2 separate regions of the Homo sapiens genome follow, and region 2 is linked to region 1. Evidence: fine-mapped expression QTL. A gene starts in region 1. The other region holds a variant in brackets. All regions are shown on one strand. Distances are from middle to middle.

The links. PIP is the estimated chance that this variant, and not a neighbour inherited with it, causes the effect.
Region 2: its variant is the best candidate, but not a certain one, in a credible set for the expression of GPR39 in subcutaneous fat (FUSION, PIP 0.62).

What each region holds. Positions count from the first base shown.
Region 1 is chr2:132,414,081-132,419,080 of GRCh38, forward strand. It overlaps GPR39 (G protein-coupled receptor 39), which reads left to right and starts at 2,725. Exons shown (of 2, transcript NM_001508.3): 1 at 2,725-3,818. The coding sequence starts at 2,963. It overlaps LOC124905948, which reads right to left and starts at 2,964. Exons shown (of 4, transcript XM_047446885.1): 1 at 2,826-2,964; 2 at 1,340-2,456; 3 at 149-339. The coding sequence starts at 2,964. The coding sequence ends at 1,735. RefSeq lists an enhancer at 2,356-2,650 and a silencer at 2,356-2,650.
Region 2 is chr2:132,572,437-132,577,962 of GRCh38, forward strand. All of the region lies in intron 1 of GPR39 (G protein-coupled receptor 39), which reads left to right. Among named protein-coding and RNA genes, the nearest start is that of LYPD1, 95 kb to the right of the region's middle. The variant CTTTCTT/C (reference allele first, on the strand shown) is at 2,652.

The DNA of each region.
Region 1 (5,000 bases):
TGGGTACATCCTAGTACAGTCCAGTGTTTCTGTGTGTGCCATTCAGGATGAATTTCCTGTGGGATAGCAAACAACCAGGCTCTGCCGTAGAGAAGTCGATTCAGAGTCCTCATCTGCAAGTAGAAAAGCCCCAGGAGTCCATGCTTACCCCCATTACGCTACTCCTGTGAGTGTTGTGGGACAGATGAAAGGTCAGCTAGGTCCTTCAGCTGAATGCAGTGCACTAATGAGGAAACGAGTTAGGAGTTTCTCCACCAGTGCCAACAAGCAGGTCAAGTAGCACACATCGGGGGTGGAGAGGCCGCCCACAAAACACATTATTTAGGGTGCTATGCCAACCTGTCAGAGAGGGAAAAGATACACTTCTTGGCTTTGGAGCTTGTGATTTAACAGAACAAAGAAAGAGAAAACATGAAAGGCACATATGAAGCTAATTTTAAAGATCCAGTGGCCATACAGCATTTTTTTTTTCTCCTAGACAGCATTAAAATCAAATAATCCTTGAGGTCATCAGACAATAGCTCCAGTGCACTGTGCAGAAAGTACAGTCCTGGCCGGGCGCAGTGGCTCACACCTGTAATCCCAGCACTTTGGGAAGCCGAGGTGGGCAGATCACCTGAGGTCAGGAGTTCAAGAGCAGCCTGGCCAACATGGTGAAACCCTGTCTCTACTAAAAATACAAAAAATTAGCCGGGTGTAGTGGCACGCACCTGTAATCCCAGCTACGCAGGAGGCTGAGGCAGGAGAATCACTTGAACCCGGGAGGCAGAGGTTGCCAGTGAGCCGAGATGGCGCCATTGCACTCCAGCCTGGGCAAAAAGAGCAAAACTCCGTCCCCTCCCCCCCCCAAAAAAGTACAGTCCCATGTTTCTATGTGCACCATTCAGGATGAATTTCCTAAGCACCTACTGCATTCCCAGAATTAGGAGTACAAACTCAGGGGTCAGACTGATCTGGATTAATTTCCAAGTCTGTCACTAACCATTTTTTAAAAATCATATATATTTAAGGTGTGCAGCATGATGTTTTGATATACAAAGTGAAATGATTACCACAGTCAAGCAAAGTAAGGTGTCTGTCATCTTCCACAGTGACTTTTTGTGTGTGTTGCACCTAAAATGGACTCTCTCTGCAAATTTTCAATCTACATTGCAACATTATTAACTGTTGTCCTGTGGCTGTATGATAAATCTGTAGACTTATTCATTTTGTCCTTTGACCTACATGTCCCCATTTCCTCTCCCTCCCAGGCCTTGGTAACCACCTTTCTACTCTTTGTTTCTATGTATTTAACTTTATTTTATATTCCACATCTGAGTAAGACCTTGCTCTCACTCACTCTTTTATGGCCTTGGGGAAGCATAGGTCCTCCAGACAGCAGAATTGCTTCATCTTTAAAATGATTGCATCGATGTGGCGATTGGGATAATTCAGAGATGTTTTCAGCACAGAGGGCTTGTGCTAGGCCCCTAGAATGTACAGATAAAGGGGATCCATGTTCTTCCTTTGAGGCAGAGGTTCTGACTTTGACTTTGCCACTCCCTGGCAAGGGGCATTTAGCAATGTCTGGAGACATTTGGCTGTCCCTATGGATGTGTGTATGCAGGTGCTAAACATCCTAGAACGCATAAGGCAGCCTTCCTCCCCCTTCATTGCTCATTCCCTCTGATTGTGGAATTAAAAGACGAAAATGGGTCCATTCGAGGGAAAAGGTCATGATCCTTAATGCTGTTTTTACATGACGGCCTTGTCAGAGCCTTCAGCTCCTCCTGCTGTCTTCGACGTTCTAGGCACAGCTCCCTCCGGAGGGCATGCTTCCCACCTGGGGCTTGCTGGCGGAGTGCCATCCTCATCCATATACATGTCCCCAATTAAAAGACGTCCCGCTGCCGGGAAAGCGGCTGCACCTTGGAGCGAAACTGAAAGAAGAGACCCCGGGGTCTTCGCGTCCCTCCGTGGGAAGGCGAGGCAGGGCCCTGCGCAGAACACCGGCAGGCTCTGGGGAAAGGCAGGGATTCTATAGTGAATCCTGCAAGCCTGCTTGGGGCCGACTTCCTGGAGCAGCGGCTGCAAGCAGCGCAGAGCCCAGCTGTCCTTGGCAAACACCCCACAGAGGAGGCGAGGGCTTGCTGGCTCCTCTGGGACGCCCCGGTCAAGCCACCACCAAACGGGCCGTGACCTCGCCTTCGAAGGGGGCCCCCAGGGCAGCGGTGGACGTGGGGGCAGTGCGGGCGAGAGGAAGTTTGTCTTTCTCCCAGCTCGGGAGGGTCGCCAGCTTCCCCGGGGCTGCACCTCCTTGGGACGCTTGTCGGGTTGGAGCGCCGCAGCTGCCTCTGCGGCTGCCGCCTGGGTGACGGAGGGTGGGGCGGGGGTGGGTCGCTCGTAGCTCGAGAGCCACGATCTGATTTCAGGGACCGTGCCTATGTGCTGAGTCAAACCCCGCCGCTGGGCTGGGTCTGCAGCCGGGCCGCTGAGCACAATCCGCTGTGGTTAATGATTAATCGCTGACCACCCCGCCTCCCGCAGCTCGGGAGAGGGTGCTCTGGGAATGTGGACCGGGGCTCTCAAGTGCCGGCAGCTGGAAAGGAAGAGGAGTGCTGCGAGGCGGAGTGCGCCCTCGGCGAAGAGGGGCAGAGGCGGAGCGCCAGGTGCTGCGGTCTCACTCCCAGCCAGCCAGGAGTTTAGAACGTTCTTCCTCCGCCCTCTCCCCGCCTCGCCCCAGCCACATACACTCCCAAACCTCAACACCCAGGCGCCTCCTGGGCCTCTCCTAGGTTGGGCTGCTCCAGCAAGTTTCCATGAAAGCACCTGAAATACTAAGTTACCTTCGCGAGGAGAACTCGAGTGAGATAAAATCGTGCGCCCACGCAGGTGAGTTTGCAGCCAAGAATTTTGGACGCTGCTGGGAGGAGAAAGGGAAGTTGAGAAAGTCTTTGGACCTGGTAGCCTGGTGCTCTTTCTCATGGCTTCACCCAGCCTCCCGGGCAGTGACTGCTCCCAAATCATTGATCACAGTCATGTCCCCGAGTTTGAGGTGGCCACCTGGATCAAAATCACCCTTATTCTGGTGTACCTGATCATCTTCGTGATGGGCCTTCTGGGGAACAGCGCCACCATTCGGGTCACCCAGGTGCTGCAGAAGAAAGGATACTTGCAGAAGGAGGTGACAGACCACATGGTGAGTTTGGCTTGCTCGGACATCTTGGTGTTCCTCATCGGCATGCCCATGGAGTTCTACAGCATCATCTGGAATCCCCTGACCACGTCCAGCTACACCCTGTCCTGCAAGCTGCACACTTTCCTCTTCGAGGCCTGCAGCTACGCTACGCTGCTGCACGTGCTGACACTCAGCTTTGAGCGCTACATCGCCATCTGTCACCCCTTCAGGTACAAGGCTGTGTCGGGACCTTGCCAGGTGAAGCTGCTGATTGGCTTCGTCTGGGTCACCTCCGCCCTGGTGGCACTGCCCTTGCTGTTTGCCATGGGTACTGAGTACCCCCTGGTGAACGTGCCCAGCCACCGGGGTCTCACTTGCAACCGCTCCAGCACCCGCCACCACGAGCAGCCCGAGACCTCCAATATGTCCATCTGTACCAACCTCTCCAGCCGCTGGACCGTGTTCCAGTCCAGCATCTTCGGCGCCTTCGTGGTCTACCTCGTGGTCCTGCTCTCCGTAGCCTTCATGTGCTGGAACATGATGCAGGTGCTCATGAAAAGCCAGAAGGGCTCGCTGGCCGGGGGCACGCGGCCTCCGCAGCTGAGGAAGTCCGAGAGCGAAGAGAGCAGGACCGCCAGGAGGCAGACCATCATCTTCCTGAGTGAGTCCTAAGTCGGGGGCAACACGTGAGCAGCTTCCCAACCTTCCCCCACGACCCGTGCCACTGCCTGTGGCCCTCTCCAGGGCAAGTCTTGCCCTAGAATTGCACACTTAAGTTTACTAAGGTGGAAGAGTCTTGTAGCAGTATGAGGGCATTGCTCTGGGTCTCTGAATGTTTCTTCTCTGTGTTTCGGGGATTCATGGTAGATTATGGTGAAAAGAGCACGAGACCAGAACCCAGAAGGTTTGGGTATATTCCAGAACATCACTGCTGTGACCTTTGGGAAGTCACAAAAATCTTTGGTAAAATGGGGACAATAATACTAGAGAATATGACGGACAAATTAGGTAATGCAGGACAGGTGAAAGTCCTTTGCAAAAGACCAAGTTCTGCAGAGATACAGGGAACCGTCTTATCTAGCTCTTTTACCCGGGGAAGACTTTCTTGTGCAATTAGATTTTGTTCCCATTTTTCTCCTCCTTTGGAGAAAGCAGGCTGTGAGCGACACACACTCTCGGGCTGCTATTTTATTCCTTGGAGCCTCTTCGACCCAATCTTAAGACATGGGAGCTCTCAGCACTCCCCAGGGCTTGGGTTTCTGCCACTGTGGGTCTGTTCCTTACCAGACCAGAGCAACCTGGCAGGACGGCCTGTTTATCTGATCCAGAAAATCTGGCTTCACCGATTCCTAGGATTTGAATAATCACCTCACAGACCCAATTCTTATGCTTGTTTTCCAAACTTTTGTTGTGATACAAGTATTTAAAGTTGAGGCCTCGTCTATTTAAAAAGAGCCCACAGGTCTGTTGACCCCAGAGCCTTCAGAAGAGGGACCTAGTGGCTGGGAGACAAGGCTTTAATGGAGACACATGAAATGTGTGTGAACAAAGGGTTTTAAAATATATTTTTTTAGCAGAAACAATAAAAAGGATGTATTGTGCGTGTGTGAATCAAAAAGGAATAGATATAACAAACATTTCCCTTCTTCCCTCTCCCCTGTGGCATCAGGAAAAGGAATAAATCATGGTGCTGTTTGTTTTGGTGTGGGCAACTGGGCAGCAGGTTCCAGGGACAGGAGGTAGACATGAGAGAGAGTTGGAAGGCACTTGGAGAATGATGGAAAGACCTGGGTCTTGCCTCAGACCAGCCCCTGGCTTCCAGTGTGTCATTAATTGTTAAAAG
Region 2 (5,526 bases), 160 kb after region 1:
CCCAACTATCCAGTTCTAGCCAGACACCACAGTCTCCCCACAGGTTAGTTGTTTCTCCTGAGAGCTTTTATTAGTCAGAACTCATAGGGTTAGAAGAGATTAAAAAAAAAAAAAAAACCTCATTCTAAACTAGATCTTAAAAGAGAGGAGGCATTTGTTGAATCATGAAACCAAAACTTATAGGGGTTCACATATGGCTGAATCCAGGTGATCCCAGATATCCATAGGAGTCCGCTATGCTCCATCAGGCACCATTCTCTCGGGCACTTTCCCCCAAGTGGTAGCAACAAGTTTACACTCTGTCAGATAGCCACACTGCCTAAGTCCTAGGGAAGAAATAATAGAATTTCTTCTCCATAGTCCTAGGGAAGAAATAATAGAATTGATTGTGGTTTGTCTTTCTTGGACCATTTTATCCAACCCTGAATCATTTCAGCCAAGGAAATGAGATACTGTTATGGCCAGGACTGGTCACATGCCCATCTGTGGAGGTAGAGTCAGGAAGAGTGGGTTCCCCAAGTGGAGGATGTGGGTTTTATTACCAGAAGAAAGAATGCTGACCAGGCACACATGGGTGCCCATTGTGGAAGTGAAATGGTGGCCCTTGCTCCCAATGGCCATGGGCTGTATGTCCCATCATTGCTGCCCCTACTGCCCCATGGGTAAGGCTGATGCTGAAACTCTTGTCCTTACTTACCCTTCAGAGATGCTCAGAGGCAGGTCTGAAATTTCCAGATGTTTCCACAAGTTTCCAACAGACTATGTTGGGAAATCTGGAAAATACTGTTTTCAAAGATTTGGAAGACCTTTAGAAGCCTCCATTTTCCCCTCCTTCCTCTATTTTTCCCTCTGTGGCAATAGCTGACCAAGGAAGCTTTGGAGATCCCCCAATTCACTGCTTGTTTCTCATTTTGTTGACCAACACCTTGGATTCCCAAATAAGAAAAGCAATCAGGAAGGTTTCAGAGTGATGTGGAAAGAGGGGCAAGGAGAGGGCCAGGCATTTTCATGCATAGCATTTGCACAAGGACAGAGTGCCAATCTCCCAGCAAAGTTGGCAGACAGGGCCTCCAGCAGTTAGAGTGACAAAAAGGTAATCAGAACCACTTGCCACTTTCCATTGAGACAGACATGGGAGCCAAAGTGGGAACAATTCCTGGATGATAAATTGTTTCTTGCTTTTCCTTTGAACTTCAAGATCCATCCCCCTGGGTCCCTCCCATCTGATGGATTGACTGACAAGTTCAATGGGCAAGGAGAGGATTCCATACCCAAGAATCTGAGCTGTGTTAAGGCAAGTCTCTGAAGCTAATTGAATGCGAATGTCAGCTGCCACCGATAGGGGTAATAGGAAGAAAAGAATTACCTTCATCAGGGGAACTTTTAGGGGCTGAGAGAAAAACCAAGCAGAATAAGCAAAGCCTCTTGAACTTCAATGTGACATTTTTGCAGCCCCAGCAAAAGTCAGTTAAACGCTAGATTTTAACTCTTCCTTGAAGAATGTATTGCTTTTCTGCAATCAAGAAATTAAAGCTAGAGCACTATAAATTTTTAATTGACATAACTTTGTATATTCAGCTTCACATGCTGATATTTTTATCATATCATGAACATTGTAAACCAATGCCATTTTTCAAAATCATCATAAATGTCTGTATAATTCAGGGAAAGGATATACCATGCTGTATTTAAACATTTCTCACTCTTTGGTCATTTTGGATGTTTCCAATGTCTTGTCATTGTAAATTGTTCCACCTCACATTTCTGAGGCAGTGTTGAATGAATGTTTATTCATTTTTGCCAGCATTGAATATTATTTTTAAAATCTATTGCCAATTTGGTAGGTAAATAGCTTCTCTCTAATTCACATATCTTTGACTACTCATAAGGATAAGTATTACTTTGCATGTTTATTAGTCATTTGTATTTCAACTTCTAAAAATTCTCTTTATGCTCTTCACACATTTTTCTTCATAGTTCACAGGAACTCTTTATATGTTAAGTATATTACAGGCCAGACATGGTGGCTCATGCCTGTAATCCCAGCACTTTGGGAGGCTGAGGCAGGCAGATCTCTTGACCCCAGGATTTCAAGAGAGAGCAGCCTGGCCAACATGACAAAATCCTGTCTCTACTAAAAATACAAAAATTAGCTGGACATGATGGTGTGTACCTGTAATCCCAGCTACTCAGGTGGCCAAGGCACGAGAATTGCTTTAACCAAGGAGGTGGAGGTTGCAGCGAGCCAAGATCTTGCCACTGCACTCTAGTCTGGGTGACAGAGTGAGACTTTGTCGCTAAATGAATAAATGTTACAATTTATTCTATTAGAGTTACTGTTAACATCTTGTTATTTGTATTTAAAACTTTTGTAAAAGATACAACTTAGTATTTTTCTAATATTATTAATGTATTTTTTGAATAGTAATACATTTGCTTGGTTTAAGATTAAACAGGCACTAAGGAGAGCAAAGTGTTTCCTCTCCAGTCTTGCCCTTTTGTGACTGAGGTTTCCTCCTGAAAGCACCCATTATTACCAATTTTTGTGTATATAGTCAGAACTTTCTTCTGCATATTCTGTATCTACAAATTTCTACATTTATTTTTTTCATATTCCCTTTTTATACAAATATAATATTTGTAATCTTCAA[CTTTCTT/C]TTTCTAACATTTTGGAGTTCATTTTATATCAGTACATAAAAGCTTTCTTACTCTTTTTATGATGCCATGGTATTCTATTGTATGGTTTATTGTAGTTTTATGACATATAAAAAAGTTAAGGACTTTACAGTCAGATCTATCTTTCCATTTTTAATTTAATCCATTGATTTTATGCTTAAAATATCTTTCACTGTGCAGTCACTTAAATACTCATCTGTGTTTTCTTTTGTGTTTAAACTTTGTATTTTAAGATAAAGGTAAATTCATCTGCAATTATAAGAAATAAGAGATCCCTCACACCTTCTACCTAGTTTCTCTCAATGTCTTGGAAAACTATACTAAAATATTACAGCCAGAATATTGCTATTGATAGTTAAATTGATCCTCCTGCCTCAGCCTCCTGATGTGTTTACTTTTTAAAGCAACTGTGAAACTGTTTTCCAGAGTGGTTGTACCATATCGCATTCCCACTAGCAATGTATGAGGGACACAGTTTTCTGCAGCCTTGTCAGCATCTGGTGTTGTCACTATTTTTTGCTTTAGACATTCTGATACGTGTATACTGATACTGCACTGTGGTTCCAATTTGCACTTCCCTAAGGGCTAATGATATTGAATGTCCTGCATGTGCTTACTTACCATCTACAATTCCTCTTTAGTGAACTGTCTCTTCACATCTGCTGTTGTCTAAATGTTTGTCCTCCTAAAATTGATATGATGTAATCCTGACCCCCAAGGTGATGGCATAAGGAGATGGAGCTTTGAGTGGTGGTTGGGTAATGAGGGTAGAAGCCTCATGAATGGTATTAGTGCCATTGTAAAGGAGACCCCAGAGGACTCCTTCTAACATGTGAGGAAACCGCCAGAAGACGGCACTCTGTGAACCAGGAAGTGGGCCCTCACTAGACACCAAATCTCTTGGCACCTTGATCTTGGACTTCCTAGTCTCCAGAACCTTAAGAAATAAATTTCTGTTGTTTATAAACCACCCAACCGATGGCATTTTTAACAGCGGTCTGAACAGACAATGACTGTCTTTTGCCCATTTTCTAATTGAATTATTTCTTTTTTTACTGTTGAATTTTGAGAGTTGTTTATATATTCTAGGTGTTAGTCCTTTGTTGGATATGTGGTCTGAAAATATTTTCTCTCAGTTGGTTGCTTATCTTTTTCTCCTCTTAACAGGGTCTATCACAGAGCAAAAGTTTTAAATTTTGACAAAGTGCGGTTTATCAGTTCTTTTTTGGATTGTGCTTTTGATATCAAGGCTAAGCCTAGCCAGGTGTGATGGCTCACACCTGTAATTACAGCACTTGAGGAGTCTGAGGCAGGCAGATCACTTGAGCCCAGGAATTCGAGACCAGCCTGGCCAACATGGCAAAACCCCATCTCTACTAAAAATATAAAAATTAGCCAGCCATGGTGGTGTGCACCTGTAATCCCAGCTACTTGGGAGGCTGAGGCATGAGAATTGTTTGATCCCAGGAGGTGGAGGCTGCAGTGAGCCAAGATTGCACCACTGCACTTCAGCCTGGGCAACAGAGCAAGATTCTGTCACCAAAACAAGAAAACTAAACTAAAACTAAGCCTAGCCCTCAGTCCTGAACATTTTTTAAATTTTTTTTCTAAAATTTTACAGAAATTTAGTTTTATATGCAAGTCTGTGATCCATTTTGAGTTAATTTCACATAAGGGTGTGAGATTTAGGCCAAGGTTTTTGTTGTTGTTTTTTGGCCTCCGATGTCCAGTTGCTTCAATACCATTTGTTGAAAAGGCTATCTTTTCTCCACTTAATTGTTTGGCATGCTTATCAAAAATCGGTTGTGCATATTTGTTTGAATTTGTTTTCCTTATTTTGTTTTATTGATCTATATGACTATACCTCTACCAATACCACATTCTTGATTATTTTAGCTATATAAGTCTCAAAATGAGGTAGACAAATTCCTCCCATTTTTTTTTTTCAAAACTGTTTTTGGGGCTGGGCAAGGTGGCTCACACCTGTAATCCCAGCACTTTGGGAGGCTGAGGTGGGGGGTATCACTTGAGCTCAGGAGTTCGAGACCAGCCTGGGCAACACGGTGAAACCCCATCTCTACAAAAAATACAAAAATTAACCAGGTGTCGTGGCACACACCTGTAGGCCCAGCTACTTTGGAGACTGAGGTGGGAGGATTGCTTGAGCCTTGGAGGTGGAGGTTGCAGTGAGCCAAGATTGTGCCATTGCACTCCAGCCTGGGCCCTGTCTCAGAAAAAAAAAAATTATTCTTGATATTCTAGTTCCTTTGCCTTTCAATATAAATATTAGAATAACCTTATCTATATCAACAACAACTCTTATGTGGATTTTGAAAGGAATTGTATTAAATCTGTATATCAATTTGAGGAGAATTGACAGCTGTACTATATTGAGTCTTATAATTTATGAACATGTAAGTCTCTGTTTATTTAGATATTTGATTTCTTTCAACAGCGTTGTATAGTTTTTAGTGTATAAGACATATATGATTTGTTGGATTTATATATAAATATTTTCTTTGAGTGACTGACTGTAAGTGGCATTGTCTTTTAATGTTGGTTTCCATATGTTCATTATGATCATGTAGAAATGCAGTACTTTTTTTGTGTTGACCTTGTATCCTGTAACCTTATTGAACTCACTTATTCTAGATTTTTTTTGGTAAGATTCCTTGGGATTTTCTACATAAACTATCATGCCATCTGCAAATAGGGGCAGTTTTACTTCTTCATTTTCAATCCGTATGCCTTTTATTTCCCTTTTTTGTCTGTTGCCCTGGCTAGACCTATCAGTACTATGTTGAGTAACAGTGGTGACAAAGACATTCTTGCCTTGTTCCCTATTTTAAA